Homo sapiens: one gene and its partners. The protein of the gene in region 2 purifies or fractionates together with the protein of the main gene of each other region. This does not show direct contact. Each region holds a gene or a part of one and is shown on either strand. Other genes may lie near its edges. The genes, in order: MAB21L1, FAM222A, MEIS1 and PBX3.

Region 1 (7,020 bases), on a different chromosome or scaffold from region 2:
TAGCTTGCCCTATGAAGTCAAAAAGAAATGTTGAATTTCTAATGAATTTATTCTGCTAATGGAACCCTTATTACATAAAATAAGGTTTGACATAAAATATATTGGTCAGAAAGGATCGTTTTATTAGTTTTCATACATAATTTTCGAAGTTTCATTATGACTTTGTTAAGTTCATTTCCTCTGAATTAGTCAGATTTTTAACTCAGTCATCTCTACTGTCATGATAGACTTTTTTTCTTATATTATCAAAAATGCTACAAGAAGAGCAAGCTTTCAAAGGTAGATTTAAATTGTTTCTGTTGTAGAAAGGAATTGTCTTACAAGTAAGTTAGAGACTGAGAGTAGATTGTTATCTTATGGACCTATACAGAAAGAGCTTTTCTCCAATGTTTTATTTTTAAGGATTTCATTAGCATATTTCTCAAAATATTTAAGATATTCAAGTGGGTTTGATTTTCAAAATGCATCATTACATCTTGTGATAGGAAACAATTTAAAGTGAGACACAACAACTTTTATTTTACTTCATTTATTACCATCTAATTAAATAAAAACCAGCAACAAATTAAAATCTAAATCACAAAAGTAATTATCCAGTGTATTTCAAGTGCATTTTTCAAATATATAATTCAGATATTCAAGCGTTATTATATAAGCTGAATTCAAATTTCTTTGAATATATTTAAATAACATTTCAAGTATATTTATGGAATGTTAGAAATAGAACAAGCAATATTTGAAACAAAATGTAAACTTTTTAAAGTTCAGACACTTTCAAAGACAGATAAAAGTACCAGGAAGAAATCTACCTTTAAATGATATCTTTGTTAGTGGAAAATGTCTGGAAGTATCCAGAATGGCAATTTAAGTTCTGTTCACCAAATCACAAAACACCAACATCCACACTTTCAAAGACAATGTGAGATCACAATATTTGTTACAAATCAAAATATACATTACAGTTTCTTTCAGATGGCATATCCAAATCGTGTTTACTCACAGACAGATGCACCTAAATCACCAGGATTGCTATAATCCTTTGATAGTTAGGCAGAGTGTTCGTCTCGGTCTGGCGTTACAGCTGGGCTGTTTACGGAGTGTTACGGTGTACTTTTCAAGGGAGATAGGAAATCGTGTGGAAAGAAGTCTTCTAATACTAGTGGCTTTGGGTTTTTCTCCATCCGCTTCCCCTACTTTTTCTCCCCTTGTGGGGGTGGGTGAGATGATGTTTAAATATTGTATTATTATTCCTTTTTAAAGGAAGAGATTGTTTGCACTGCGGAGTGGAATATTAGGAATTGAACAGAAGTTTACACTTAATAAGGACTTTGAGAAGGGTAATAATTTCGGCTCTTGATTAAATCATCCTCTAAAGTTTTTCCAAACTTTTCGGGTTGGTCAGGATCTCTCTTGCCAGTCGCCACGTTTGTTTGGCAGCGTTTTCCAGAGCTGAGTGAGGTTTGCCTTGAAACAGATCTAAGTTCGGTAGAAAGTAGTGGGGACACCGCCGGCACTGCAGGCAGGAGATAAGTTGCAGCAAAATCCCGTTCAGCCGATCACCCAGGCAAGACTCGTCCCAGTCCGACTCTCGGGGATGCTTTTCACACTCGTAGGAAACCAGAGTCTTCATATGGTAATTGTTCAAGGGCTGGCCCGGCAGTTCAAGGTGACGATCCCTTAAGGTTTTGAGGATGGAGAGGCACTTCTTTCTGCAGCCCCCCATCTGCAGTCTGTTCTCTGCCTCCGCGAACTGCAGCACCCAGGCGTCGCTCTCCGCCGAGCTCTGCTTGCCGGCCAAGGAGTGGCACTCCTTGGACAAGAGATTGAAACCTTCCGCCTTGACCTCCGCCACCCGGTTGGGTCCCGGCCAGGGGATGTGGGGAAGTGGCCAGTGGGCAGCACTCCTCGGCCAGATCCCGGTGCATTTAAAGGCCGGCGTGATCTGCACCACGTACCTATCTCGGATTCTCAGTTTCACTTCGCTGGTGTCTGCCACCATCTTTACCACATCCCGGTAGCTACATTTGTCTACCGCTTGAGCCACCAGCGTCTGAAACCTGGACCGGATTTTGCGCGCCGAGAGGTAGCCGGAGGCGGTAATGAATTCCACCCAGAGGGACATGCTCCTCTTGCGCCCGTCGCTCAACTTCAGCACCGCGCAGCCGGGCAGTGAGCCATCGTCCACGAAGTTGAACACCCCCATTTGGTTGAGATAAAGCACCACTTCAAATTCGGTGGGGGAGATGACCTCGAGGCCCTCGTAGCGATTGTCCATCTCGTTGAGAGAGCTGATGAACCGCGGCTCCTGCACTTCCACTTCCTTCAGTACGTCGGAAACTACTTTGCAGACTTCCCGGATAGTTTTGGCAATGGCAGCTTTCCTGGCTTGGCATTTTTCGTTGTAGTATTTATTCAGATGGTAGACCAGCTTGGCCTGGGCCGCAATCATGTTGGGGCAGAGATCCGGATTGTACACCGGAGTCTCGCAGTAAGCTGTGGGATCCAATGCGGCTGCTAGAGCTGGAGCCAACTTCGGTGGAGAAACGGGCCGCAACACTCAGAAATGGATCAAAAATGCCTTTCGGAAGTGCTGCAGCGTTGGTTTCCCTGCTGCTGCTGCTGCTGCTGCTGCTGCTGCTGCTGCTGCTGCTGCTGCTGCTGCTGCTTTTCCCTTCCTTTTATCTTTGAGCCCAGCCGTTCTTAAAGTGAAAGACTGTCCTCCCCCCTCTGCTTGTCTCTCTTCCTCTTTTAAAGAATCCTTGTGTGAGAGAACCGCATGGAGAGATCACCTTCTCAGGAATAAAAAACAAAAGTTGCGCTGAGACCCAGCAAAGCTCTTCCAGTAGTCAAAATAAGCACCCCTTTCCGTATTTATTTGCGCTTTCCCGTAATCATTGTGTGTGCAGCACTGTTAATCAAATGGAGGAAAAGTGTGCTGAGTGTGTGTCCGGGGTGAGTGTGCGTGTGTATATGTCAGAAGAAGCTGCTGTTGGTTTGTCTAAGAGCCCAGATGCACTCGTGTGGAAATTATAAAGGCAGGGCCAGGCAGGCGGGCGGCCAATCGCCACTGGGCTCGTCACGACAGCCTCCTTCAGCTCCAACCCGGCTAATTAATCCCCACTCATGGATATAGGCACACAAACTAAAGGTAGGAGGCTGCTGCCGGCGGAAAACCACTCAGGCCACCTAGACAGTTTGGAAATCAAGAGGAATCTCTCAGCTTTGGTATTACTTGAAGCATATTGACGTTTTGAAAAGACTTGGCAAAGCGGCTCTCTTCTGTGCCGAAAACCTGCTTGTCTTTTACCGCTGAAATGCAAATACAGGTGTATTAATGGGCATCCATCAATTAGTGATCTTGACGGGGTTTTCTAAAACAAAATCACTAACTTGCATTTAGAGTAAGATAATTAACGTCTGTTAATCCTTGGGGTCTTCTTAAATGCAGGTTGAAAGTTTGTTCTTTCATGCAGACTACTGGCATATGGAAGTTGGCTTTAGATGGAGGAGTACCTGTGTAATTTTCTCATTCTGGATGTTCCTATATGTTAAAATGATTTTTTGAAACGTTATGGAGGTAGTATGCTCTTTTTTTACTTATGTTTTTTTCTTTTCTCCATTTGTTGAATCTGAAAATTATTGCTGAGTGTGTGAGATGTTCTACCCCTGTTTAAGTTAGGATATTTAAAAAATATTTCGTACATCCCTCTGCCCCAGCAGATGCAGTCTTTGCACTTTGGTGGACTTGCCCAGCATTACAAGCAGGACACAACGCTATATATGCACTTATAGAAACATTTGAAAAATAAATTGTCTGTGGGATGGACAGAGTACTTTAGCGTTATTTCATAGTGACCTGTATTTTAGTACATAAAATTCAGGTGAGATCATAGAGATCAAGCTTCCTCACAGATAACTATCCCGAAAAATTGAAGGTTTGGGGTATCTGGCTTGTTTACAGATGTATAATTAAGGATATATCTCCTGTCTTAAGTGTCCTTAAGTGGTGACCTGGCAGTAGACTTCTAATTTTATACTATTTCGTGTGATTTAATTAAGGGAAAATGGTTAACATTTGCAAAGAAAATTAACTTGCAGTTATCTGGGGGGTTTTTTGGATTTAAACATCATTTTGAAAACAAAAATGAAATAAATCATTTCATTTCTGAATTTTGGAACCTGGAAACAGGAGGAGGAATTTTTTTTTCTAGTTGGTGGTCCAGTTGTGTCCTCAAAGTACAGGAAACTAAAGAAATACTACTTAGTGGTTACGTTGTGGTTTTTAAAACTAGGTGGATTTTTTTAATTGTCTACCTTTAATTTAGATGCCACGTCTTTCCAATTAAGAATATTTCCCGTCAAATCCTATAACTCCCGGTAACATGTTTGTAGACACTTTCAGAGTCACTTTTAACAAGATATTCTTCAGGGCTCCCACTTGCTACTTAAGCTTTTGATTTTTGTTTGTGTGTTTTGTTTTGCACAGGCACAGCATCACAAAACCACCTATTATTTAATTTCTCCTTATCCAACAGTGATAGATTCCAATTTAGCTGAAAATAGTATACATTGGGGTGCGTGGCACCCAGCTACTCTATTTCCCAAGAACCTTCCATCCCCTTAAGAGCAGGGTCTGGGAACACCCAAAAAACCCCTCCCCACTTTGCCGTCATCGCGGGTGAATGCACCACTACCTTTTGGCAGTTGGAGGGGAGACCCATCAGAGCCGGAGAACCTGCAGCCACGACGGCGAGGATGTGCAGTGGTCTCTGGGGAAACGCCGCCTTCTGCCCTCACCCGGCGCGTGTGGCCCTGTGCCGTCCGCTCGCCGCCTCTCTCTCGCTGCTCCGCATTCCCGTGCCCTCTTACTTTCCTCTCTGGGCTCAAGATCGCTACGCTTTATTTCTGCGTGAGCTTATTTGAAAACCTTACTTGGTGTCCCGGCTTACTCTCCACGTCTGCTCCAGACCACGGTCTGCCCACGCACCCCTCAGCCTGCACCGCCCACGTCCGGCCCAGGTGTGGTCGCAGCCAAGCCCCAGCCGCGGGCCCCTGCGCCCTGCGCTCTCTCCCTTGGGTTCAGGCCAGAGATGCTTGCCCCAAGACCTCGCCCCTTGCCTTCTTGGGCCACCTGCAGAACACCCTTGGTTGTCAAGGACGTGAGACAGCCGAGGACGGGGAGGCCCCAGGGCTGTTCGGGGGACCTTAAGTGGGTCCAACGGGAAGGACGCGGGCCTGCGAGGGATGCCGGTCGGGCCTGGCTGGAGCCAGGCGCGCAGGTGGCGCATCTTCGGGGCTCACTGTGCAGCTTAATTGGGTTAAAGCGAAGCTAAACACCGAAGCACTTTGTGCAAACTAATTGGTGCAACCAGCGCCTTTTCACTAACGATTTGCACTTTGAGAAAGAAAAATGGATGGTGAGAAAAGGTATACTAGGAAACTCATTAGATCTAGAGTGTTCAGGAAAGTGAAGTCATTTAGTTTAAAGGACGCCAGGACTGTGTTTTCTAAGCTGCTTCCTTAAGCACCCCTCACACAAGGAGCTGAAGGTGATTTACATAACATAGGATTCACCGGTCCGCGATTATCACTGTGGGTGAACTGGGCGCCCTGGAATGAATAATACTCTAGTGCAAGTACTGCTTGTTGCTGCAACACAGTGATTTTCTATTACACTGAACACGTGAAATGAATTGCCTTCTGTAGCTGAATCCTTTCAGTGATCGTAGACGCCCCTCATTGTTGAAGCGAGAATTAAGCTATTCGGAGAAGCGTGTTTTCCATCCCCGAAATTTTTTTATGGAAATGACCTATAGAGAGGGATTGCAAATAACAGTACATTTTTGTGCAGTTCAGCCGATTTTAATCTAGGCTTGGGGGATATATTTATTTTATGGGAGTAATATATTTAACTATTTTTCAGTGAATTTTAAAAAAATATCATTTGACCTATTAAACTAGTTATGTCAAATGATTATGTAGTACATAGAGATGGCTTAATATACATTTATGTATTAATGTGAAAAGTTTTTTTAAAAAACTCCAGTTATACCAGTCTTGCAATATTTTTTGTTGTAAATATACTCAGTGCTACTAGAATAAAATTGTGTGTGTGTCATGCTTTAGGATGTAAATACTTAATTGTTTTCAGTGGTAGGCATGCAGACATCTTTGACATGAGCTAATAATAGAATGATAATTGAGGAAAACTGGCCTAATTGAAGGAAAAAAATCTCAAGAATCTCATGATTTAATGATAGTTTGAAATGCTTATATTGAATGGTATTTAGAATTTTAATGCCTAACTGACTTTTACATTGCATTTACTTAGTTTATGAGGCAGGCTCGATTTAAAATGTACCAGTTAGGAAAAAAAAAAAAAAAAGCAATAAGGACATAGCACACCATTATCATAAATGTTAGTAGTATTAGTGAATATAAAATAATTAAATATTGTGATCCTTAACACTTCGAAGCGTTCGAAATAACAGTGGCAAAACAACTTTGCCTCAAGTAGTATTTCCTAAATAACTTGTCTCCACTTCTGCAGACCTGCTTACTTATATGGGATATACAAAGTAATTCATAAATAGTGTCATTATTAAGCTTAAAGAAAAACCCTGTTATGTTGAGAAATACAAGAATGCAATATTTCTTTGTTTTCGAAAAAAACCTGATTTAAATTTGAATTGCATGTTCACAAATCTCAGTAATTGTAACCTTTCATCTGGAAAAAAGGTATCTGTTAAAGGATATGCACATACATGTTAAGTGCTTATATAGATATTGTTTGGTGTTTTTTCATTATCTGCTAGCTGCTAGTCTATTCACAAGTATTAATGAATTTAAAGTTTTATTTTTTTAATATGTGCTTATTACGCTGGGGAGATAAAAAGAATATGAAGTTGAGTTTATTACATTATTTATCCCTACTGCTGGAGTGGCTTTGAAGGCTCATTGTAGCCATCTGATTTCTTTCCCCCTTCTTTTTTTTTAAATGCACCCAGGCTATTTCAAGTG
Region 2 (7,891 bases):
ACTCCCTCCTGCTCATCGTCTGGCACGCTGAGTGCCAAGCCCAGGGAGATGAGGGAAGGGAACAGAAGGAATTGCCCAATTCTGACAGCCTTTCCCTCTGCCTTGGCTGTGGAAGTGTAAATACTCGGCAGAGGGCCTCCAACTGCCTGTGTTTGTGAATCTCTGGCGCGCACTCCGAGTTTGTTTCTAAACTGGGAAGCTTCGAGAGGCAGCGCAAACAGCCCTTCTGCCCACCTCTCCCGGCTCTCCCCCAATCTGCTGTTGCTCCTCTGTCCTTGGAAGCTTGTGTGTTTAACGACACCATTTCAGCTGGAAATACCATCTCCCTGCCAAGCCCCCAAAAGCAGCTCCACCGATATTTATTGACCTGTTAATCTAGCTAGAGAGCTTGGTAGAAGAGCAGGGAAAATGCTCGCTGCATAGACTGGGGCCTGGCTTCTCCTAATGACCCGAACACACACTTTCTCTGCTCTTACCCCGCCCCACGCTGCTGAGGCAATGACAGTTTTCGAACCTTTTCCTAGAAATGTGATCACAGCAGTTTCACCAGCACCCGACACTGGCAATAATTGCTGGAAGGGACCTAGACGAATCCCAGAGCCAGCAGCAGGATGCTTGCTGGGGGTTCTCTGGGCCTTTGCAGGGAAGCGTGCCAGTACTGGGGTGTGTGTTGGTTGGGGGTGCCCTGACAGAGACACAGTTTATTCAGACCTTGGCACTGATGGGCCTCACTTGCCCGCCATTCACTTAAGCAGCCTCACAATATGCTCGTTGAAATCCTCTTAAACACCAGAAGGAGCAGGGGGCAATCAGGAGTTCCAGGTTGGCCAAGGCCCCTGACCTTGGGGTAGAACAGCATGGGGAGCCCCTGGACTAGGGGTGCAGCAGGCAGCAGCTCCTCTGCACCTTCCTTGGCTGGGGGAGGGGCACCCACATTTTCCCCAGCAGAAGTAGCCTATTGGAGGGCCGGAGGCCCACATCTCTCTGGGGACCCTGGGAACTTCAGCCTGCCAGCTGGGTACATGGTGGGGTTCAGGGAGGTCTCTTCTATAGCATCTCTTTTCAAAACAGAAAGTTGCTCTGTCTGGGAGGCCTGAGCCCCGAGGCACAGGCCAGGCTACATGGGCAAAGCTCTGAACACCTGTCCTTGCGGGGAGGAGCATCAACAGGGACAGCTGGCACTGCCTCCCTCCCCCACCTTATGGGGCGCTAAGGATTTAGGTCAGAGGACTGCAATGGTAGGGGTGGGGGGAGTCCGCCTTCACCCCTCCACTACCCAAAGGCATCCAGCCCCGCCCCTTGTTACCACGACCCCGCCCCCTCCGGCCTTGGGTCAAGGCAAGTGGTGTTGCCACGGCAACCCCAGTGACATCAGAGGCTAAGGTTTGACGTCATGTCGTGCCCCCACTGGGGAACCTACCGTCCCTGCGAGTTATTTGTGGGAACGTGGTTTGAACGAGGGCTCTAAGGTCTAGCCCCATGGGGCACAATTCTCAAACGTGGCCACCTGCGTTTCTGGAACCCCAAATCCCCCTCTGAGGTGATTTCCCTTGAAGATCTCAGAGGCTGCTCGGGAGACCCTCAACGTTTTCCCATCCTGGGTGCCCCCCACCCCCCAGCCCTTCCAAGACACTGGAGTTCCCGGGGAATTTTCGGATGACACAGCCAATACCTTTGTTAGCTTTACGGGTGGGGTGACCTTTCCTCTCTGGCAACCAACCCGCCCAGGGTCCCGCGGAATCCGAATGGGCCCCCCAACCTCCACTCCCATCGGCTGGCCCATCTGAACAAGTTGTGTTTGGAGGGAGGAAAGGGGCGGACAAGGGTTATCTCTGCTTCAGGACCCCCAACAGCCTAGGACCCCTTCTGTCCAATCCTGGCTGCCCGGACGCCAGGGGGTGCCCCCAGCTCCAGCGCAGAACCCCGCCCCGCACAACTCACCGGATCAGCCAGGCCGTCGAAGGGCACCAGGTCTCAGCTACCACGACGCTCCGCTCGACGGGTCGCAGCCATGCAGGAGTGGCAGAGGCTGCCTGACGAAGCCCTCCTTGGGGGTCGATGCCTCTCTCCGGGTGGGAAGGGGCGCTGTCGGTGAGGGCTATCCTGGCGCCGGCCTGCGCCGTCCGAAGTCGGGGGGGAGGGGAGGTCTCCGTTCAGCAGGGGTCACGCCCGCCCCGGACGGGGGCCGCGCGGGCGCTCAGGCGACGCATCTTCGCCGGGGCCCGTGATCGCCACGTCCGGCGGGCGGCGCTGCGCCTCCCCTCGGGGCCCCGCTCAAGGCTGCAGCTCGGCCCGCGCCGCTCCCAGGGCGCCCTCTCCGCCCGCGCTGGGAGCCCGGCGGCCGCGGCCCCTTTCGCCAGCCCCAGCTGCAGCCTGTCTTTGTTGCTTCCTCTCGCTCGCCCGCCCGCCCGCGGCTTGCAGCCCCCGGGTTCGCCCCGAGGTGGAGGGATTGTCTCCTTCGGGGGTTGCACGCACCCGCAGCGGCCCCGGCTCCTCGCCGGACATACACCGGCCCCTGCAGGTTGCAAAGAACAGCGGCGAGAATGCACCGGCCCCTCCTCCTCCTGCTCTGAGCCCCGGGTGTGGGGGGAGGGGAAGCCGGCGAACAGCGGCGGCGGCAGCGGCGGCGGCGGCGGCAGCGGGCGACGCAAGCTCGGATGCAGCCTCGGGGGCCTCGGCGCTGAGAAACAGCCGATCCCAGTGGCGCAGGACGGACACGAGGACGGCCCGGGGGACTGTGCACCGGGTGTGCGAGCTCGCAAGCCGCAGCAGGGGCCGCGCGCGCTGGGCTCTCACGCGCCCATGGCCCCGGGCGGCGCGCGGGGGCTCCCGGGGCCGCAGCCTCGCGCCGTCTGGCGCGCGCCGGCGCCTCGCCTGGTCTCAGGCCCGGGTGCCGCGCGCCGCGCCCCACAGGCGCCGGGCCCGGCTGTCCGCCTCCCCCGGCCGGCGCGCGCAGCCTCTCCGCGGAGCAGCCGGCCAGGCAGTCCTGCCCGCTGCTCCGCTCTGGCCCGACTGACAGGCGCGAGCGCCGGCAGCAGCCCCCGCGTCTCGTCCCCCGCCCGCCCCCCGCGGCCCAGCCCAATCAGCGGCGGCTGAGAGGCGGTTACCAGGGTGACGCGGCACCGCGTCCTGCGAGGGGCGGAGCCGGGGGCCGCCACGCGCGCTTTTCGCGGCAAAATTCAAAGGCCGGCAGGGCGGCTCTCCAACCTCCTCCCCCAAGCAGGGACGAGGCGGAACTTGCCTCGCGAGGACTGCAACTCCCGGCATGCTGCGCGCCGGCGCCGGGTGGAGGGGCCCCGACTGGGGGCGCAGGGCGTGCTGGTTTTTGTAGTCCCACTAGGGGTGGCAAAACCAGTGTCATTTACTGATCACATATTTGGGACAAGGCACTGTATAAGTGCATTATCGGCATTATTTCATTTAATCTTGGCAAAAACCAACCTCATGAGGAATTTGTTAAAAATAACAACTATAGCTAACACTTATGTAGCAAAGTATTTTATCTAATCCTCACAACACCGTGTGAGTGGGTATTACTATCACCCCCATTTTACAGATGAGAAAACTGATACGGTAGGTACTATTATTATACTTCCAACTTACAGAGGAAACTGAGGTAAGGAGATGTGAAGTGACATGGTCCTGGATGTTTTTGTCCTAAGGCTTATTTTTGGCAGCGATGTGTTTTTGGCATCACAGTTGTGATCTGTGGAGCGCTAACTATATAACCCAGCACAGCGCTGAGCAATTTGCAAGCTACACCTTCTAGACGTACCCCACGCCCACAGGAGACAGGCACTAGCCTACTCCCCCACTTAATAGATAGGGAAACTGAGGCATAGTTTCACATCAACCTGGGGTTCAAATATGAATCTATCAAACTATACTGTGCTTTCCCTTTTACTTTTAAAGAAGCTTCCTGGGTTCTCACAGCCCATGGGCGGCCCGTCTAGCAGTCTCATTTACAGATGGGGAAATTGAGTCCTGGGTGGGGCAGTTCCCTCAGTTGCTGTGTGTCCATCACACAGCACTGTAGGAAGCCAGCTTTCCGGGATAATAACAAAGATCCCCACAGAAATGCAGAGCAGCAGTCAGACCCCCCACCCCTCAGGCTATGCCCGTGTGATACCTGGAGTCCCACCGAAACTGGGTGGGATTGCAGCCCTGCCCTTGCTGGTTGTTGGTCTTGGCCATTTACCTTCACGGGTCTGCGCCTCAGTTTCTTGTCTGTGAAATGGGGGGCATCATAATTCCTACCTTACAGCGTAGATTTGAGGGCAAAATGAATTCTTGCATGTAAAGGACTCAAAACACACATTAAGTGCTCAATAAATGCCCTCTGTACTCACCCGGGCTGGAGGGCTTTGGAGACCCTGGGGAGCGTATCCAGCGGACGGGCTGATTATAGACGGGCCCTAGCCTACTTCCAGGAGCCAACCCACCCCGCCGGGAGAGGCGCCCGCGGCGGACCTCCAGGGCCGGCCCAAGTGGGTCACCCGCCGCCTTATCTAGGACAGGAGCTGGCCCTGTTTCAGGCCTCTAAGCGGCTGCTCGGCGCGCTGTTCCCAGCAGCTCCGCTCTATTTCTCCGCGGCCGCCCCCATCTCCTCCCCTTCCCTCCCCAGGCTGAAGGTGGGGGTGGGGATTTACCTGGAAATGTGTTATGCCTCCAGCTGCTTCCCGCTCGGGCCAGCAGCCAGGGCTGCGGGGACGTCAGGGAGGGCGGCCGGGGCGACTGGATGGGTGGACCCAGCGTGTGGACAGGTGGGGAGACCAGACTTCAGCTGAGGACAGGGCGAGGGACAGTAACAAGCAAACCCTGGGAAATGAGAGAGATCGCGAAGAGGAGAAGAAGGCAGCAGTTCGCACCACAGCCTGTCAAAAGTTTGGGATTTTTTTCATTGTAGGTCACCATGACTTCACACCTACTGTGTGTCAGGCATGGGCTCACTGCTATTTATCTCACATAACTCCTTTTACCCTCGCAGAAACCCTATAAGGTATATACGATCACTATGCACATCCTACAGCAGAGGAAGGCCACATGACTTACCCAAGGTCACACAAATGACAGAACCAAAGTCCAGAGCCCTGACGTTGATTTATTGCACCTTGTGGCAGCCACTGTCTGACCGTGTGCAACCTTGAGGGGAGTTTCTTCTCTTCTCTGGACCTCAGTTTCCCCTGCCATGAAATGGAGGGTAGGACCCAAACCCCAGCCCTACCAATCAGACTCTCCTTGGTGGGACAGCAGTTTCCAAAGCTCCTATGTGGTTCCTGATACAGCCAGGGCTGACAACCCCAGGTCGAGAAGATCTCAAAAGACCCCTCCATCTCTGAAGTTCTATGAGTCCACGATGTGCTCATGGTGGAATTTCCGACAGCAGCAGGCTCCAAGGCAGCTGTCCAGCAGGAGAGGTCAGAGCCTTCCAGATGCCTGTCGCTCCCCTCCAGGCAGGTGAATGCCCCGTAAGATGCTCTGCCCCACTCCCCACACTCCCAGTGCCCCCCTACCCCATATGCCCATCTCCCTGAGATCAGACCCTCGTGCCTTTGCTCTTGGTCGACTCCAATAACTGCATTATGTGATTGGAGACAGTGTCAAGATGGATTTGCCACGGTCCATAAAACCACCAGGCAGGCCAGCCCCGGAACACTGGCTCTGGCCAGGGGTCCGACAGGCCCTGAGGGGGCAGGGGGCAGAGGGCATCTCATCTCTCACTGTTCTTGTTTGCCTCCCACACACCAACCTTGCTGAAATACCTACAAATCCTTGCACGTGCCTCTCTCACCTCCAGGTCATTGCTTATGCTGTTCCTTCTACCTAGAATGCCCTCCCTCCAGGTAGCTAACTCTTGCTCCTCCTTCAGAGTTCAGCCAAAGTGCTGCCTCCTCCAGGAAGCCTTCCCTGACTACCCTGCTCCAGGCTGGAGCACTTCCCCCTTCACAGATGTGTCCAGTGTGTGTTATAATGGCCCACTTCTTTGTCAGGCTTCCCACTGGCCTGAGGGCTTTTCCAGGGCAAAGGCTGCATTCAGTTCATTTTATTCCCTAGCACAGGCCTGACATAGAGTCAGCACTCAATGAAGGTCTGTTGACTTAATCTCTGAATCACTGAATGAATGTGGCCCAAGTTTTTGTTTTGTTTTGTTTTCACGTAGAGGAGGAGAATTAAGAGAAGGGAGTAGAGTCAGGCTGACTGGGCTACTAGCCATATGACTCAGCCGCTCTGTGCCTCAGTTTCCCCCATCTTTGAAATGGGATTAATTGCCATTTCAATTAATCAAGGCATCACTCAAGGGGCCTGGAGGCTGGAACTTTTGTTCCCACCCTCCCACGTATGTAAGGCTAGTCTTGCTCTTCTCTGTTTTTTTGTTTTTTTGTTTTTTAGAGACAAAGTCTCACTCTGTCACCAGGCTGGAGTGCAGTGGCACCATCATAGTTCACTGCAACCTTGAACTCCTGGGCTCAAGTGATCCTCCCACTTTAGCTTCCTGAGTAGCTAGGACTACAAGGTGCATGCCCCCATGCCCAACTAATTTTTAAATTTGTTGAAGAGACGGGCTTTTGCTATTTTGCCCAGGATGGTCTCAAACTCCTGGGCTCAAGTGATCCTCCCACCTCGGCCTCCAAAAGTACTCGGATTACAGACGTGAGCCACCTGGTCCATCTTTGCCTTGCCCTTCTCTGGTCTCACGCACTGAAGCCTGAGCATTCCCCCTTTAAGTCTGCTAATTCCCTCATTCATTCAACATTTTCTAAGTACCTGCCCTGTGCTTGACACTGGGAATTCAGCAGTGACTCAGACCAAGACATAGGCCTCTTGGAACTCAGGTTTCATGGGGCACAGAGAAGGCAACTAACAGGTGTCATCCAGGGTACCAGTAGAGGGGACAGTCCGAAGCAGGCACCTGACTCAGCGGAGGGCCAGTGATGGTAAAAAGGCAAGTCAGCTACCCTGGGAAAAATGGGTAGGAGGTAGCCAAGGGCAGAGGTGAGGGAAGAGCGCCCCCGGAAGAGGGAACAACCAATGCAAAGGCCTAGTGTTCCAAGTGAGGGAGATGTGAACGCCCCAAAAGCAGAGGTGGGTGAGAGGCTGAGCTGGGGCTGGGGAGAGGGGAGCAGGCAGAGACGGGGCATTTATGCAGGCAGAGGGGGCAGGCCTGCTCCAGCCTCCCACCCCACCCCCAGTTGCCTCACCTGCCCTCATTGCTGTGATCTAGGCCAGAGCCCGGAGGGAGCCCAGCCCCCATTGGTGCACGCCACGTAGGTTTTTCAGAGATAATTTAATCAGAGCTATTAATAAGCAGAAAAGAAAGAGCTCTTTATGCTCCTCCTGGAGAAACGGGGAAAGAAGAAACACATGTAACCTTGTTATTCACCCAGCCCCGCCCCCCAGTACCTGAGTCTCTCTCTGGGGCAGGCCTAGTGGGGCAAGGAGGAGGGGGTGAGCTATGTGTAGGGCTGAAGAAGTCCAAGTGGCCTCAGGAACCGAACCCTGCCCATCTCCCTGACTATATCCCACCCTCACTCCCTTCTGGCCACTTTAGTCTCCTCTTGGTTACTTGAAGGTGCCAAACTATTTCCCACCTCAAGGCCTTGACCCAAGCCGTTCCTTCTGCCTGGAACATTCTTCCTTTTGCTCTCTGGTTTGTTCTCATACTTCCAGTCTCAGCTTAAATGTCACCTCCTCGGGGAAGCCCTCCCTGACTACCCGATCTGAAGTTATTTTCCCCAGAACACCTCCCTTTTGTTTTGCTTTCCCTCTCGTCAGTGCTTACTGCTGTTGGCAGCTTTCTGAGCACTTGCAGGATGACATTTATTTTCTTCTTATTTTTTTTTTTTTTTTTTGAGACAGACTCGTTGCACAGGCTGGAGTGCAGTGGTGTGAT
Region 3 (7,644 bases), on a different chromosome or scaffold from region 2:
ATGTAGGGCTTCAGGGATGGCAGGCCACCTCCCCAAATTATCCATGAAATGTGAATGAAAAGTCACCAAAGATGTACCTCCAATCCAGAGAACTCTGACTTTCCTCTTACCAAGGGCACAGAGAAAGAGGGAAGCGTTGAGTCTCAACTACTTAACCTGCTGCCCATTGTACCTACCCATAAATGGCATCTTTATCTCTCTTTAAAGCGTCATTGACAGAGGAGCCCATGCTGGGGGCCATGGCGTTGGTATGAGCTGTGTGCGGGTACTGATGCGAGTGCAGAGGAGGCCCGTGGTTCAGGTGGTGGACCGGCTGCATGGACCTGGCTGCATGCGGGTCCCCATACATCGTGGAGGGGATGCCTACTCCATCCATGCCCCCGTAATGGGGTAGATCGTCGTACTGCATGACAAACAGGAGAGAAAGAAGGTTCAGGAGGCCAGGCGGGCAAATGGGAGAACGGCAAGGCACCGAGCTTATATAAGGTCAATACAGCTGGGTCCTTCCACCCGGAATTCGGTGGCCTTGCATCTATAAAGCTGAGTTTTTCTTATTTTAAAATTAAAGCTTTAAGTAAAAAATACAGAATTCTCAGCGAGACTCGTCTGGGATGAATGATCTTGCCCTAACTTGTGTCCCTATCAACTAGTTTAGAAATTCAGGCTCCTTTGGCAAGAAGGAAAGAAGAAAGAAAGAGAGAAAGAGAAGCATTCTCCCGAGGGTAGAAGGTGAAACGGGCATGTCTCTGGAGGAAGAAATTCAAAATCACAATAATAAAACGTGCCAGGACACTGCAGCAAACCCGCCTAGTTTCACAGCCCCTTCACATCAGGGGGAATTAAAAAAAAAAAAAAAAGTTACGATGGGAACAGCTACGCAAAGCACGTGAATTTAGACAGGCTTCTCATTTTATTTCCCTGCCAGCGTGAGGTTAGGCAGTCCTACAAGACACTGCATTTCTTTTGCTTTCCAAGACAAACTCTGCTAAATTATACAAAACTAACTGACCCCTTATAAGTGAAACTCAAAGGAGGGTAGCTTTTCCTGAACATCAGAGCTGAATTTAGAATTGGGCAATTCCCCACCCCCAAAGTTAAAGAAAATCTATAGTTGAAGCAGCTAATATTCTATTTTCTTATTTACTCTTATGAACTTTGTTTCCAGACTAGAAGTCAAGGAGGCAAATGTTACTCACCAGGTTTAAAGCAAATTCAAAAGCAAATGCACAACTTTCCATCTTCCTCTTCCAGAAAAAAAAAAAAAAAACTACTTTCATATTGATTGTCATTATTTTGTGTGTGTGAAATTTAGCTATTTAGGTTTTTCTAATTGGTTCATTCCAGGCAGTTATTTTCCCAAGATTTGGAGGCGCTGAGAGTGAAATGATTTTCAAAGAAAGGAGGAATTGCCACTTTCATCTCCTTAAAGCCAGAGGTGTGAAAAGAGTTTGGAAGAACGCTGACATTTGCCTGAACCAAAGGAGTAAAGAAAACTGTGTCAGCCTAGTAACTTTCTTTTGCAAACAGGGCTTTGAGGGCCAGGACACAAATTATGCAAGGAAGGCTTTTTGTAGACCCCCTTTCTTTTAAGAAACTACCTCAGTTGGGTTGTCATTGTCTCACTTTACTCTCACTGCATTTCCATTGAAAAAGGAATATGGGGAAATTAGTATTGCATTTTTAAAGTGAGTAACTGTGTGCTTAGTATTCAATTAGTAGAGGGCTTATCTAAGAGAAACTTGCAAAATATTGCCTTGTATACAAGTCTATACAAATTGAAATTACTATAAAAAGATGAATGTTTTCTGACCAAAAAATTGGCTATACTATGACAAAGTTATTTCCTTTAAAAAGCTGAATACTTCTAGTGATATTAAAGATGAGCATAATCAATAACATATCAGAAGTTTCCAGCTGCATATTTTAGTTTAAACATAACTTTAAACTTCTGATCTCTGAATGTTCAAATTACAGCTTTAGGTATCTAGCTTTTTTAAAAAAAAACCCAGATGATTGTTTGAGCTTGCATTTTTATTTATATAGCTGCTGGTTAGGAATCTATAGATAAATAGATTCCTTTAATTAACAACTCCAAGTAACATACATAAGTCTACAAATGCATTGAATAAATCCTCTCGCTTAGGCCACGGCTTTAGGAGCCTCATTTTTTAAAAGAGAGAGAGAAAAAAAGGAAACTTTTTAGCAGTGTCTTTCGGCCACGTTTCAATTTAATCTCACATTTGAGTTCCACAATTGTTTTTTAATACGTACCCTTTGCGCCATCGGCCTCTCTGGCTCCCTTCCTACTTCAACTTCTAATATATCCTCTTTAAGGCCAGTGTGAAAAGAAACAAATATTCAAACTCCCCCGGAAAAAAAAAAAAAAAAAAAAAAAAGCACGACGAAAAATCCCTTAACGTCTCCAGCAACGTGAGCTACTGGTCCCAGATCTTCGGTCTACGGGACCTGAAGCAAAGCGCCCGAGTCACTGAGCATAAAAGCGCTCCGTTTCCAAGACAGCAGCGGGGGCAAAAAAAAGCAGATCTTCTCTCCCCCAAAAATCAGTTTAAAAAAAAAAAAAGAAAGAAAGAAAGAAAAGGAAAAAAAAGAGCGCCCCTCAGACCCAACTACCAAATCTCATGGCTTTCTGCCACTCCAGCTGTCAATCACAGGCGAGGTTGTCAACGTGGTGAATGAATGATCATCCGCTCTGTCTTCTTCTGGTCAGAACACCTCAAATGTTAATATTCAAATGCACAAAGCCCTAGCGCTCGCTTCCCTTGAATCAGTCCTAATTCCTAATCAGTTTCTCTCTTCTCTCTCTCTCTTTCTTTCTCTCCCTCTCTCTCCCTCTTTGCAAGTGCTGCACTGGAAGGAGATTAGAGAAGGAGGGTTAAAAAAAATGTCTGTCTGAGTTTGTCTTAAAGGAGCCACGATCGATGCTGCCCGCTTGCAGTCCCCGTGCGTGTGTAAAGTGTGTGTTGCACAGGCGGAGAGGTGGATTCCGACCAGAATGCTAGAACCCGGAAGTAGTGGTGGCCATAACAGGTCGCGTCTTACACAATGCATTGGGCTGCAGCAAGTAGGCTCCTCGGCAGGGGTGGGTGCGCGAAGCGAGCTCTGGCCGCACTGGAGAGGCAGAGAGGCGCTCCATTAAATCGCACGCCCAGGCACAAACACCACACACCCAGGGCACACGCACACAAACGCAGGCAGTAGCCCGCGGCCGCCAGCTTTATTTTCAGTATTCTTTTCTCTCCCTCCCCCTGCAGACTCTCTCCCCAAAGCCGACTCTCTTGAAATAAATTGGGAATCAACGCCGGGCAGGCAGCAGCGGGAGTTATTTTGCACAGGGCTCCGCGCATAGACTTCATGACTTTCCTCGAAATTATTGGGGTCTGCCAGTGTTTTTCGGGGCAGGGGGTGATGCGCAAAGTACTGAATTCTCAGAACTAAACACTGCAAGGAGAAAAGTCAAAGCGGGATCGTGGAGGAAAAGGAGGGAGAAGCCAGGTTGGGAAAGCCTCTGCTAAGGAGTCCTGAGAACATGGGGTTGAGGTGGCTCGGGCTTTCTGCAGACCCAGCTTAGAGGTTTCTTTGCTGTTAGAGGTGGACGCCCGGCCGGGGGAAAGAAAATGCTAGCATTTTGTCACTTCGGGTCTGGACTCCCCCACCTCCTAGCCCCGGCGGCTCCCAGCCCCAGCCCAGGCGTCCTGCGCGAAGTAGAGAGGAAGGGAGGGAACAATGAGCTGAGCGCGGGGAATGTGCCCCCAGCGCCTGTTTACAAACACCAAGCTATTTATGATCGTCGGAAAGCGAAACCCGGCGCGGGCTCGCAGCAGCCCAGACCTCGCGGGCGGAGCCGGGGCCGGGGAGCCGCTGGGAGGGAGGCTCTTTCTCCGACCCGCTCGGGGTGAGGCGGCCGTGCGCCCAGGGCGCGGCGCGGCGCGGCGCGACGCTGCCGGAGTGCTAGGCTCCGGCTGCAGCCACCGCTGCCTTTGTCTTAGAGGCGCCGAGGGGCTCCAGCCTCGACCTCTCCCGGGCCTGTAAGAACCTCGCGCCCCACTAGCTCTTTCTCCAGCGAAGCCCTGCCCTCACCACCCCAGACATCCTTCCCCGCGCTCCTCTTTCCCGTCCCCAACCCGGCTCGGCGAAACCTCCCAGTGCCAGAGAAAAAGAAATCCGCTTCGGAAGCTGAGATTTCAGACAAAAGCTGCCTGTACCTACAACTCGGAGGCTCCAACCAACCACTGTTTTTTGTTTTGTTTTGTTTTTAACTTTAACACCTATTGCCTGGGCTTTAATTCCCCCTCACCCCTTCTCTTTATTCTCCCGCTCTAAGCTTCTCCCTTGTGATTATATTTAGTGGCGTTATTTTCGTATTTATATTTCTGTCCGCTGGGCTCTGATCTGCCGAGATGGCTCAGCCGCAGCAGCTCTACCAGTGGCTGGAAACCTCACATCCACAAGCAGGGCTCGCAGCTCGCTCGGCTCCGAGAGGATTTTTCCCCCTCCCTCCAGCTGAAACCTCGCAGAAAACTCCCCCTGCGGTCGACTGGAAAATGAGCTCACCCAAATCTCGGTAGGCAGCCGTGGAGGAGTGCTCGGCCAATCAGGAGGCGCCCCCGCCCAGGCCGCCGCGCATTGGCTGCGGGGAAAATCAATTATCAAATAATCGATCAGCAGGGAGCTTCGATCTGCGGGGAATGCGAACTGCCAGTCCCTATTCCCGCCCTGAAGGTGGCCAAAAGGCTGACTCCCTCCAAGCAGCCCGCCCGCGCCTCCATCGCCCCCACCCACGTCCCACTCGCCAGCTGCGGACTGAACCCTCACCCTCAAGGGGGTGTAGGTAGGGAAAGAGTTTTGAGCAAGATTGGGGGTATCCCTTCATCCGAAGATTGTTTGGGAAAGGTTAGGAGCTCTAAAATGTATTGAAGCCAACTCTTAAGCGCAAAGTAAAAGATAATTTGCGTCCGTCTGCGAGGTAGGACTGAAGATTCTATAGAGTGGGCTTCCGAGGAGCAGGAGACACAGGGCGAGCATGAGAACATAGGTCTGGAATGAGGTTCCACCGAGCGTCCGTAGTCTCCTTAGGCGACATCTATCGCTTCCTTTAGCACTTCGCAGGAGTCAACGCGGGGTTGGTTGCCCCCAACAGTGGAGCGTTTCCATAAAGCCGAGCAGATGAGCCTTCCCAGCCGCCTGCACTGCACCCTTCCCCGCCCCCAACTCCGTACTGGCACCCTGTGTGCCTGAAGGGCTGACACACGTTCTCCCAAAACCTTCAGAAGCGCTTTGCCTTGAAAGAGCTCTCCCTCGTGTGTGTGTGTGTGTGTGTGTGTGTGTGTGTGTGTGTGTGTGTGTGTGTGTGTTTAAACCATCTCCAGGATCCCTTATCATTTGCTTCCTCTCTCCTTTTTCTCTCTGTTTCTCCCTGTCTTTTTTCTGACGCTTAAGTTTCAGGATCTTTTAGTTTTTTTCCATCACATACATGTGTAGGTTTTCTGGTACAAACGCCCTGAAACATCACTTGGGAGGTTAAGACAGGCCCGCGAGTAAAAGCTGGGGACGGAGTGGGTGGGCAGCCAGGTGCATTACCAGCGCCTTTATGCCTCTGCCTACACTTCCCGGCCTCCCCCCATCCCCCCACCCCCCCACCCCACGCCTCACCGTCGCTCCCCGGCCCCACAACATGAACTTGGAAGCAGAATTTCAGGCCAAGATGGAACCTCCCCGTCTCAGGAAGGCGATTTCTGTTTAATCCTTGGGAGGCTGCGCTGGCTGGGCCAGGCAGCACGCTCCTTTTCCGATTAGGGAAAGGACTAAGCTGGGCCGGCAGTCTGCGACCCCTTCCCGGAACCCCAGCCGACTTCGGGGTATACCTGAGCGCCTTCCGATGGCTGCTCGCGGGGGTGTGATCATCGTCCCCGCATCAGGCCCGCCAGGCATCTGCGCGACTCGGGGGTAGGAGGGAGATGCGTGGGTGGGAGGTGGGGGTCAAACCAAACACCGACAGGGCACACCTACGTTTATGATCCTTAAATGAACTGCGAGGGAAATTGTGTAAGTATAATTTAACTGAGAGAAATTTATTGCGAAATACGCTTAGAGGACTGTGGTCTTTAACAGCCTCAGGGGTTCTTCGGCAAAGAGGTAACGGGGCTTGGATTTACCACAACTCTGCGGCCACGTTTTCAAATTTGGAAAAGGTCAGTATATATATATATATATATATTTGACAACAGGATTTATTTTGTATTGTTGCTTTCCGGTAATCTTTTTCTTTTGTTTTCTAGCACAGATGAGAAAAGAAGGTTCAGGTAAGTCACCCTTTGCAAACATAACCAAAATCTTCAAAGCAGGAGGAAGACTAGACGACTGCATGCTTTAACCATGATGTGCCAGATTACCTTAAAAATGTACTTTAAATTACCTACACACAAATTTTCCTTAAAGAATGAGATAGTTTGAGTTTGCGGACTTAAAATCAACTCAGTAGTTTTGAAAAGTGCCCCTCCCCCCCCCCACAGTCTTTCCATTTTAAACTGTGAACCTAATATAACTTCTAGGCCTTTATACAATTAATTCTGAACAATCAAGGGACTAAACACTTTTACAATGTAATTACAGTAGTACAAATTGTTTGCCCAAACCTCATTCTGGATAAGGATTTTACAATTAGCAAACAGTTATTACAGTTGGGGCTTGCTGAGAGAAATTGCACAGAGGATGTCTAGAGTTGCAATATAGTAGCCATAAAAAAAAAAAAAACTCCTTTAGCAGGGCAGCAATTAATCATCTATTAAAAGGAAACAAATGAAGGGACAGGTCTAGGTATCTTAGTAAACTACTGTCAATATTTATGCCCATTTTTTGACAGCCCCTATTCCTAACTTATTTCAGATACTTGCTTTTTTAAGGCAATAGCACTTTTATTTTGCAAAAACTTGGCCTGGTGAAAACTTCTGGCACTTGGCCCTAGCTCTTGCGATTCAGGCCTTCCGTTCTCTTCTCATCCTTCTTATCTCAGAGCATCTTTCCAGAGATAGAGAACGGTGACAAAAGGAGGCAGACTGGGCCCTTGGTCTCTATTGTTTACACCCTCCTGTATGGAGGCATTTCAAGCCCTCAGTGCTCCTCTGAGCTGCTGGTAAAGTCGTCTCGGAGAACTCCCCTGACTTTATGTTCTATAAGGAATTGTGCTTCTGGAAAGATCTATATCCTAAATTAGGCTTTTGTCCCAAAAGGTCACACTGATGAGTCAGCTCCAAAACCCTTAGAAACTAAAGAGGCACCTCTTAAGGTAAAACGTGTGTGTATTTGCCAGCCCAGAATAAACAAAAGCCTGTTAATCAATCGAGTTTGGCAGCTGTGTTCACAAAATGATAAGGGTTTATCATTTGCCACCAAACTTTAAGATGTCCCTTAAAATGCTGTGATTGGTTTTTAGGTTGTCCTGTGGTGTGGAGGCTTGGCGTTTGTATTTCAAAAACATTCATCCTCTGCATCTCTCCCCCTCACTAGCATTGACATTTCAAAAAAACAGAAATAAGAGGAGGGAGGGAAAGATAGTTTAAAGAAAATAGATTCGAAATCTAGTACAGATAATAGAGGAATGCTGGAGATAAGAGCCTGGAGGTGATA
Region 4 (7,021 bases), on a different chromosome or scaffold from region 2:
TAATCATGAAAGCAAAAAGTTTATTCATGTTTGAAACTACATATAACTACCACGAGGAAGACTTTTTCAATCCAGGGTGTAATCCAGTTAGAAAGGAACACGAAACGTTTTTAATACATTAGAATCACCGCCACAAATTATTTTCATGACTCAATCAGTTTCAGAATCGCATACAATACAAAAAGAGAGAAAGGAGAGGGGGCCCCATTACACAGGGTGAAATATACAGTACTGAATACTGAAATCTGAATGCATCACAATTAGTCGCTGCTTTTTTTTTTTTTTTTGCATGGATTAGTAATAAGATGAAGAACATTCAAAATGTTTCTCAGTATTTACAACAGTTTTACCGATCCTGTGTTGAATTAAGACCCAATGTTTCCACACTCGGTTTTTTAAAAGTTGCAAGTGCAACCCTGATTTTTCTTTTAAAAGATTACAATGTACATTACATTTTATGAAGGGAAACAAAGAGTTAATTACAAGATGCAAAAAGATAAGAAAGAGACAAACTACAGCGTGAGTATTGTTCAGAGGTAGTAAGTGAGCACTCTAAGCTACAGAACATGTTGAAATTCTATTGGTTTGTATGAGTTCGCATGAGGTAATAAAGCTGTGTTTTGATTGGTGGGATGTATAAATACTCTTTTGCTACACTATATACAACACTCCAGAGAGCAGGGCCTTTTGCAGATGCCCAGAGGACGTAGCAAACCTTGACAAGTCTGTGCAGCACCCAGTGCACACCGTAAAACCCCAGACGGATCAATCTCGTTTTCACCTCTATCAGCAGCAAGTATCTTCGTCTCTCAGAACAATCTGGATCCATAATTTTATTACCGAGCAGACTCTGGGCACTGGTGCTTTCAGAGAGAGAAACGATGCTACCAGTCTCTGATCTAATTATAACATAAGAGATCTGAACACAAACGTGACGAGGAAGATTCTTAAACACAACCATCATTAACAGGGATAGGCAAACAGCTCTTTATTCCAACTCCATTAGTGATATGAAAGAAAGACAATCCAAGTCAGTAATGGAAATATGCAAGAAGTTCAATTTAGGTGAGGTGAATTTTTGCATCTGCTTTAACGGTTGAGGTTTAGTGTATATTGTACTTTTTACCCTTAAGGCCAAGTAATTGGCAACTGTGAAACCATTAATGTAAAATATTGATAATAAATTATGATAAAATAGCTACAGGACTGTCAACAATGTTAAATCTTGGCCTAATTGGATAAAGTGCTTTATTTTTTTTAACATTGTGTGTTTTTAAGTATAAATACAAATGATTATGATTCCTTAAAAAACAGATTTACCAAGTTCTCGAATAAGACAAGGTTTTACAGTAAAGCTGTAGATGGTGGGCTACAAAAACGCTTTCCTTTTCCTCCTATTGCTCTGAATGCACTTATCAAGGCATGTAGCTCAGGGAAAAGTGTGGCCAGAGATTAGTTAGAGGTATCCGAGTGCACACTTCCTGGGCCTTCTGTAGGAGAAGTCACAGAAGATGGAGTTGTTGCGTCCTGCCAGCCTCCATTAGCCTGAAAGGAGAAACACAGTTCAACGGGTGCACGTCTACATATTAATTCTACTCCCCAATTTAAAACACCCGGATGACAACATGAGAGCAGAGATGCATTAGCAAAATGTATTTTCTAAACCCACTGTGGCAGGAGTTGGCAGCATGTGTTAAAGTGGGATTAAATGCATGTAAAACAAATCCATCCCATCAAGTAAAGTCTTGGCAATAAATCAACACGCCGAAGAAGGGCTTCAGCGAGGCCCATGCTGGCATCGAGCTCGGCCTTTGATCTGCTGGTAAAACTAAAGTGACTCAAAAAGAAATCTCTTCAGAAGGGAGCAGTGGAGAAGCTCAATGCAATGCCTCAGCGAAACCCAGGGCTCCATGAAGTCTAAACTTCACCCCGGCTTAATCATCATTTCCATAGAGAAGCAGTTGCCCACCCTTTTTCCATACACGCCTGACAGCCAGCTACTGTAACCCTTGGAAAGTGAAGGCCAGAATTTCCCTCCAAATAGGATCTTCCAGAATGAAAATGCATGAGCCGCAGAGCAGCACACACTGTTAAAATCTGTATTCCAATTATCTGTGGCTGAGGCTCCTATTTGGGATGTTGCTCCCACCTTCCACATGCTGCTGGCCCTTCCTGCCTCAGACCTGCAGCAGCAATAACCGTACTCAGAAACAAATTTGCCTTATGTCTTGGCCTATAGTGGCAATTGCTGAAATCAATGTCTGATCAGATTTCTGCTGTGGCAGACAGCTTGTCGCTACATATTTTTATGTCAGTCAGGAAGAGGGAGGTGCCAGCCTCGTGAGTTGGGGAACACTGAGTGGAAGTGATGGGGCAGGCCTTTCTGGAGAGGAGGTGAGGGTGAGCAGGCTCCCCGTGCCTGCAGCACCAACCACCCTCTGCCGCCATGCTGCCCCCAGACCCGGACCTCCTACACCAATGTCAGGGTGGGTCATAAGGTGCCTCCTGCCTCCCTCACATCTATTTGCAACTTCCTCTGCAAGTCCATCCAAAATGCCCTCTTTCAGGCCTGGGCTGCCAGGCTGCTGAGAACTCTTGTCTAGATTCCCTGCCCAGCCTAGATACAGCTCCTAGATGAGCATGTGGCAGCCATTGTTTCTTCTTCTGTGATCACAGTTCCTGGAGAACTCCCTGTCTTCTAATTCACTGCAGAGTTGGCATGCAAAGCACCTTTTCTACCTCTATGACCTAAGAACCCCACAGAGATGACCAGACCCTAAGGGAAGAGGATTTTCCAGGCTTGAGGCATATCAAATTCAGGTTAGGAAAAACAAAAGGAAACAGTATTTAAAAAAAAAAAAAAGCTATGGTGGTATTGTTTTAAAGCCTCTGTTTTGCCAGGTTGGCTAATGACATGCCCATGTGTGTTCGGTGGACTCTCAGAAATCCTCTTCTCTAAAAGGTAAGCTGTTTCCCCCCTCAGGTATGAAAATCTACTTAGGAAAAGAAAAACTCTCACACAGATACAAGTCTAAAGATATTCCATCTGAAGTAAACATCATTCCTCTTTTATCCAAATTTATAAACAACAAATGTACAATATTTTTACCCAGCATGGCAGCTGGAGGAGAGGTTGTCAGCAAGCATTCTTTTTTTTCAAAATAAATTAATCCTTACTCTGGTGGTTTGAGATTATGCACTGTATTATACAACAGCGCCTTATCAAGCCTCATCAGTGAAGATGGAATTCATGTCTGTAAAATGCTGCAGGCAATCACAGTTTCATATTTTATCATGTTGATAAGGATATCGCACATTCTCTGAAGCATTTCAAAACACTTAAATGAAAAAGGAGAAATGCAACTAAAAGGCTTTTTATATGGTTTGTTGTGGGTTATTATGAGTTATTTATAAGCCCAAAAAGAAAGATTTGACATTTCAAATGTAAAAGATTTGAGTATTTAATGGTCCTTTTTTCCCTTTACAATTGAACATCCTCAATCACTTTTTAAATCATTAATATTTACTCTCGTAGCAAGCCAAGGCCCTAAAAAGGAAGAATTTTGCCCATTTTCTTCCTGAGTCTACTACCGTGAGCTGGGCAGTTAATTTCCTTCCTAAGTCTAGAACCCCAGACTCCATCCACCACACCCCGCAGCACCACCACGATGACCTGCTCCCCTGCCCCCTTCCCCCTTTTCCAGAGCTGTGTGTTTTGCCATTTTCCATCCATGTCAGTGGAGGGAAAGGTAAAGTTGTAGTGAAGTAGTTACAAAAGTTAAAATTATTTCCTCCATAATTAAAATTGTCAAATATGTTGTGCATCCCACATTGACAATACAGCAAGATGCTTTTAATAACACAATTATTTGTTTAGCTTGGTTTGCTGGTCTGCCTGGGATTCTCCAAACTTACCACCTTCACCTGAGTTCTGTTTGGGAATTTTTCCCGCTGCCTGGTTCTAAGATAAATGACCTGTTTTCTACCGTCTCCCTGGAGCACAGCACTGATGGTAGGAAATGGCGTCTTAATGGGCTGATGCTTAAGTCCCTGCTGATGACAGGACACCAGCCATTTCTGGGCATCTATGAGGACTTCTAAGGGTATCTAGACGGCATCAAGCATTTAGGTTCTTAAAATAAAAGTGCAGCAAAGACGCTGCCTTCCCTACCTGCCAAGAAGATGAGAAGCCAGGTCAAATGGCTATTAATTTCTTTATTAGTCACTGTTTACCTGACACTGTTCTCCTACAGCTGACTCCCCAGAGTACTCACATTTAAATTATGTGGACTGTACAGTGAATTTCCTCCAAGGCCATCACTGTAGCCTCCCGTCTGATTGATAACATGACGGAGGGTATCCACCTAGAAGTGAGACAAAACAAAATTCATCATCCCAAATCTATTAAAACGTCATCACTTACAAAAGGAAATAATTTGAATTATGTGTGCCACAAGGGTTTAACATCTTCAATGAAAGACAAATTTATCAATCAAATGTGACTGGCAGAATTTCAACCATTCTTTGCATATTTAAACTCACAAATCTTTGTTTTTCATGCCAGCCAAACAATAACATCTTCATGGCAATGCAACTTTCCATCTACAGCAACCAAATGGATGTGGCTGTGGGTGAAAGCCTACTTAGAATTGTGTATATGGAATTATCTCAACTCTCTTTCTCTCACTTTCTCTATGTCTCATACACATACATCTAGATGTATAAAAACTATATGAATAGTTCTGTTCTCAAATAAGAGGACAAGAAAAGAGTAGAAATTATAGAGTTATAATTTAAGAACTCAGGTTTTTGTACTCTGACTTGAGAAATGAAACAGCAACATGTTCTTAAACCATATACACACTGGCACACTCAATTTTTCTGTTCTATTTTGTGACAAAAGTAAGATGCACCCAACCCCTCTCCATGAGCTCAAGCCAGAGCCGAATGCATTCACAAAGTTTATCAGGTTTGAATCATCACAAGTCACTGTTCACTTGACTTCTCATTAAATTAAATGGTGGGGCAGATGGGTCCTGGTTGGAAGCACCCAGCACAGGTTCTGCATGGATGTGTAGACCACTTCCATGGGGTCAGAGGAAGGAGTTTTGAGCCCAAACCCTACCCTGCTAGAAAGGCCCCACTGGGGCATTTCTCCTACCTGTGATTGCACATTGGCTCCGACTTGGGACCCTTGGTAAGAATCCCCATTCAGACTCTGCATGTTCATGAACATGTCCCCAGAATTTGGGAGGTTAAAAGAACCAGAAGAACCTGGAAAGGAAAGAGTTAAGTAGCTGAATAACAGAGAGCTACACACATAATCCTCAAAGACCTAGAGGCAGGGAGATGAGAAAAAGTACAGAAGGGAAAGGCTGTGCACAACATAAAGCATTTCCAGATCTAAGAGGATGGAGAGTAACTCCAGAGAGTTGGGTCCTGTGAGTCACTCCACATCTAGGAGAAGTCCCATCAGTGGGGAAGCCCAAACTTAAAAAACAAAAGCAAAAACAAAGAGACAAATCAAAATAAATTAAAAAGAAAAAATAAACCAAAACACCCAGCAGCTGGCCTGGACCCTTCCCCTTGTTTCCACTCATCTCCAGGATTTAGTCATTACACGAGCTTGTCAACATGGCTGTCACAGTGGACAGCCACCCAGAGAAGAGACTTTTCCAGGAGCTCTTTCTTCGCTATGCATATACCTCCCTCTCCTTTCATCTGTTTTTATGTGCCATTAAAAAGAACTGGGGGGTGAGGAGACAAGACAAAACAAACAAAAACCCCCCTACTTTCTGAACTTCTAAAGATATAGCTAAGAGACCTTCTCAGAAACGCCCCTGGAATTGCTACTGAAGTCCATCTGTTTGGACTAGCTGCACATCTTTCATTGTTATTCAAGTTCCCTGAAATTTTAAAGTATTTCTAACCCCCTCACAAACGTCACATAAAATGCAGCCAAAATGTACCGGACGAGGATCCAAGAATCTTGCATGCATGTATTAAGCACCATAACCCTCACAGCTAGCCACCTGCTGAGCATGCCGTCAGCCCCGCTCAGACAGTGCTGCTGAAAGGCAGAGAAAGGACAGCGGTGCTGGGCAGAAAGCACTGCTGCACTTCCCTCCAGCATTCCAGCTTCCTCACACACAGCAACTGCTGCATTTCCCACTTCTGCTATTTCACTCTCCACAGACCACTACTGACCCTAAAGTGGTATCTGGAAAGAAATAGCTAAAATAGTCATGAGCGATAGCACTCTGCCTAATTACTGAACTGAAAGCCACTACTAATTGTAAAACTTCCATAATCTACTAGTGAGTGGCATTCACTGTGAAGAGTGGGTTTACAGGCTCTGACCTTCCACTCATTCACCCATCTCAAGAACAAGCCTGCATTTGAACATAAATCTTCCTTTTTAAGTCCACTCTGTCCTCAGTATGGCTCTTGTTTCCTGGCCTGTGGGACAGGGCATTGTGGCATAAGGCTGCCTGGGCCAGTTGGGGAGCGAGCCCCCAGTACGCACCGGAATTTGGTGTGGTGGGCGAATTGGTCTGGTTGTTCTGCACAGCTGCTGCTACTGCGTGTGCAGCTGTCACGGCCGTCTTTGCAGCATAGAGGTTGGCTTCTTCCTGAAACTTGCCAATGTTCTTCTTGTACCTGATTCGTTTGTTGCCAAACCAATTGGATACCTACAAATTGCAGGGACATGGAGGTGAAGGGGAAGAGAGGAAGAAGTAATCAAATTCCAATAATACCTGCTGGACACCAAGGCAATACCTTGGGAGACACACAATTCCTAGCCTGCAACCTCACATCCTATGGATCATGCATAATGGTTTTGGGGGTTATTTTCTCTTTTGGCAAAACTCTCACATTCTTTTGGAATAACGCTGCTTTCTTAGAGTTGGCCACAGTAATACCAAAACGGCAGGGAGCGCTGCTCATAAAAGATATCCAACTGCTATATACCGATTAGTATATAAATAGTCAGGCCCCCAAAATCAGGCTGAAAAGCTGA

What was found.
Region 1: the proteins of FAM222A (region 2) and MAB21L1 purify together in Homo sapiens (affinity purification with mass spectrometry; 2 studies listed by BioGRID and IntAct, with this or other methods). This does not show direct contact.
Region 3: the proteins of FAM222A (region 2) and MEIS1 purify together in Homo sapiens (affinity purification with mass spectrometry; 2 studies listed by BioGRID and IntAct, with this or other methods). This does not show direct contact.
Region 4: the proteins of FAM222A (region 2) and PBX3 purify together in Homo sapiens (affinity purification with mass spectrometry; 2 studies listed by BioGRID and IntAct, with this or other methods). This does not show direct contact.

Annotation. Positions count from the first base shown.
Region 1 is NC_000013.11:35,473,690-35,480,709, forward strand, and holds MAB21L1 (putative nucleotidyltransferase MAB21L1), read right to left. Parts: upstream 3,001-7,020; 5' UTR 2,450-3,000; coding exon 1,370-2,449; 3' UTR 100-1,369; downstream 1-99. UniProt on the Homo sapiens protein: Putative nucleotidyltransferase required for several aspects of embryonic development including normal development of the eye. It is unclear whether it displays nucleotidyltransferase activity in vivo. Binds single-stranded RNA (ssRNA).
Region 2 is NC_000012.12:109,708,948-109,716,838, reverse strand, and holds the start of FAM222A (protein FAM222A), read right to left. Parts: upstream 3,015-7,891; 5' UTR 1,942-3,014; intron 1-1,941.
Region 3 is NC_000002.12:66,430,496-66,438,139, reverse strand, and holds the start of MEIS1 (homeobox protein Meis1), read right to left. Parts: upstream 3,016-7,644; 5' UTR 2,284-3,015; coding exon 2,272-2,283; intron 404-2,271; coding exon 177-403; intron 1-176. UniProt on the Homo sapiens protein: Acts as a transcriptional regulator of PAX6. Acts as a transcriptional activator of PF4 in complex with PBX1 or PBX2. Required for hematopoiesis, megakaryocyte lineage development and vascular patterning.
Region 4 is NC_000009.12:125,960,355-125,967,375, reverse strand, and holds part of PBX3 (pre-B-cell leukemia transcription factor 3), read right to left. Parts: intron 6,693-7,021; coding exon 6,527-6,692; intron 5,275-6,526; coding exon 5,162-5,274; intron 4,365-5,161; coding exon 4,275-4,364; exon of another isoform or gene 4,201-4,274; intron 1,546-4,200; coding exon 1,453-1,545; 3' UTR 1-1,452. UniProt on the Homo sapiens protein: Transcriptional activator that binds the sequence 5'-ATCAATCAA-3'.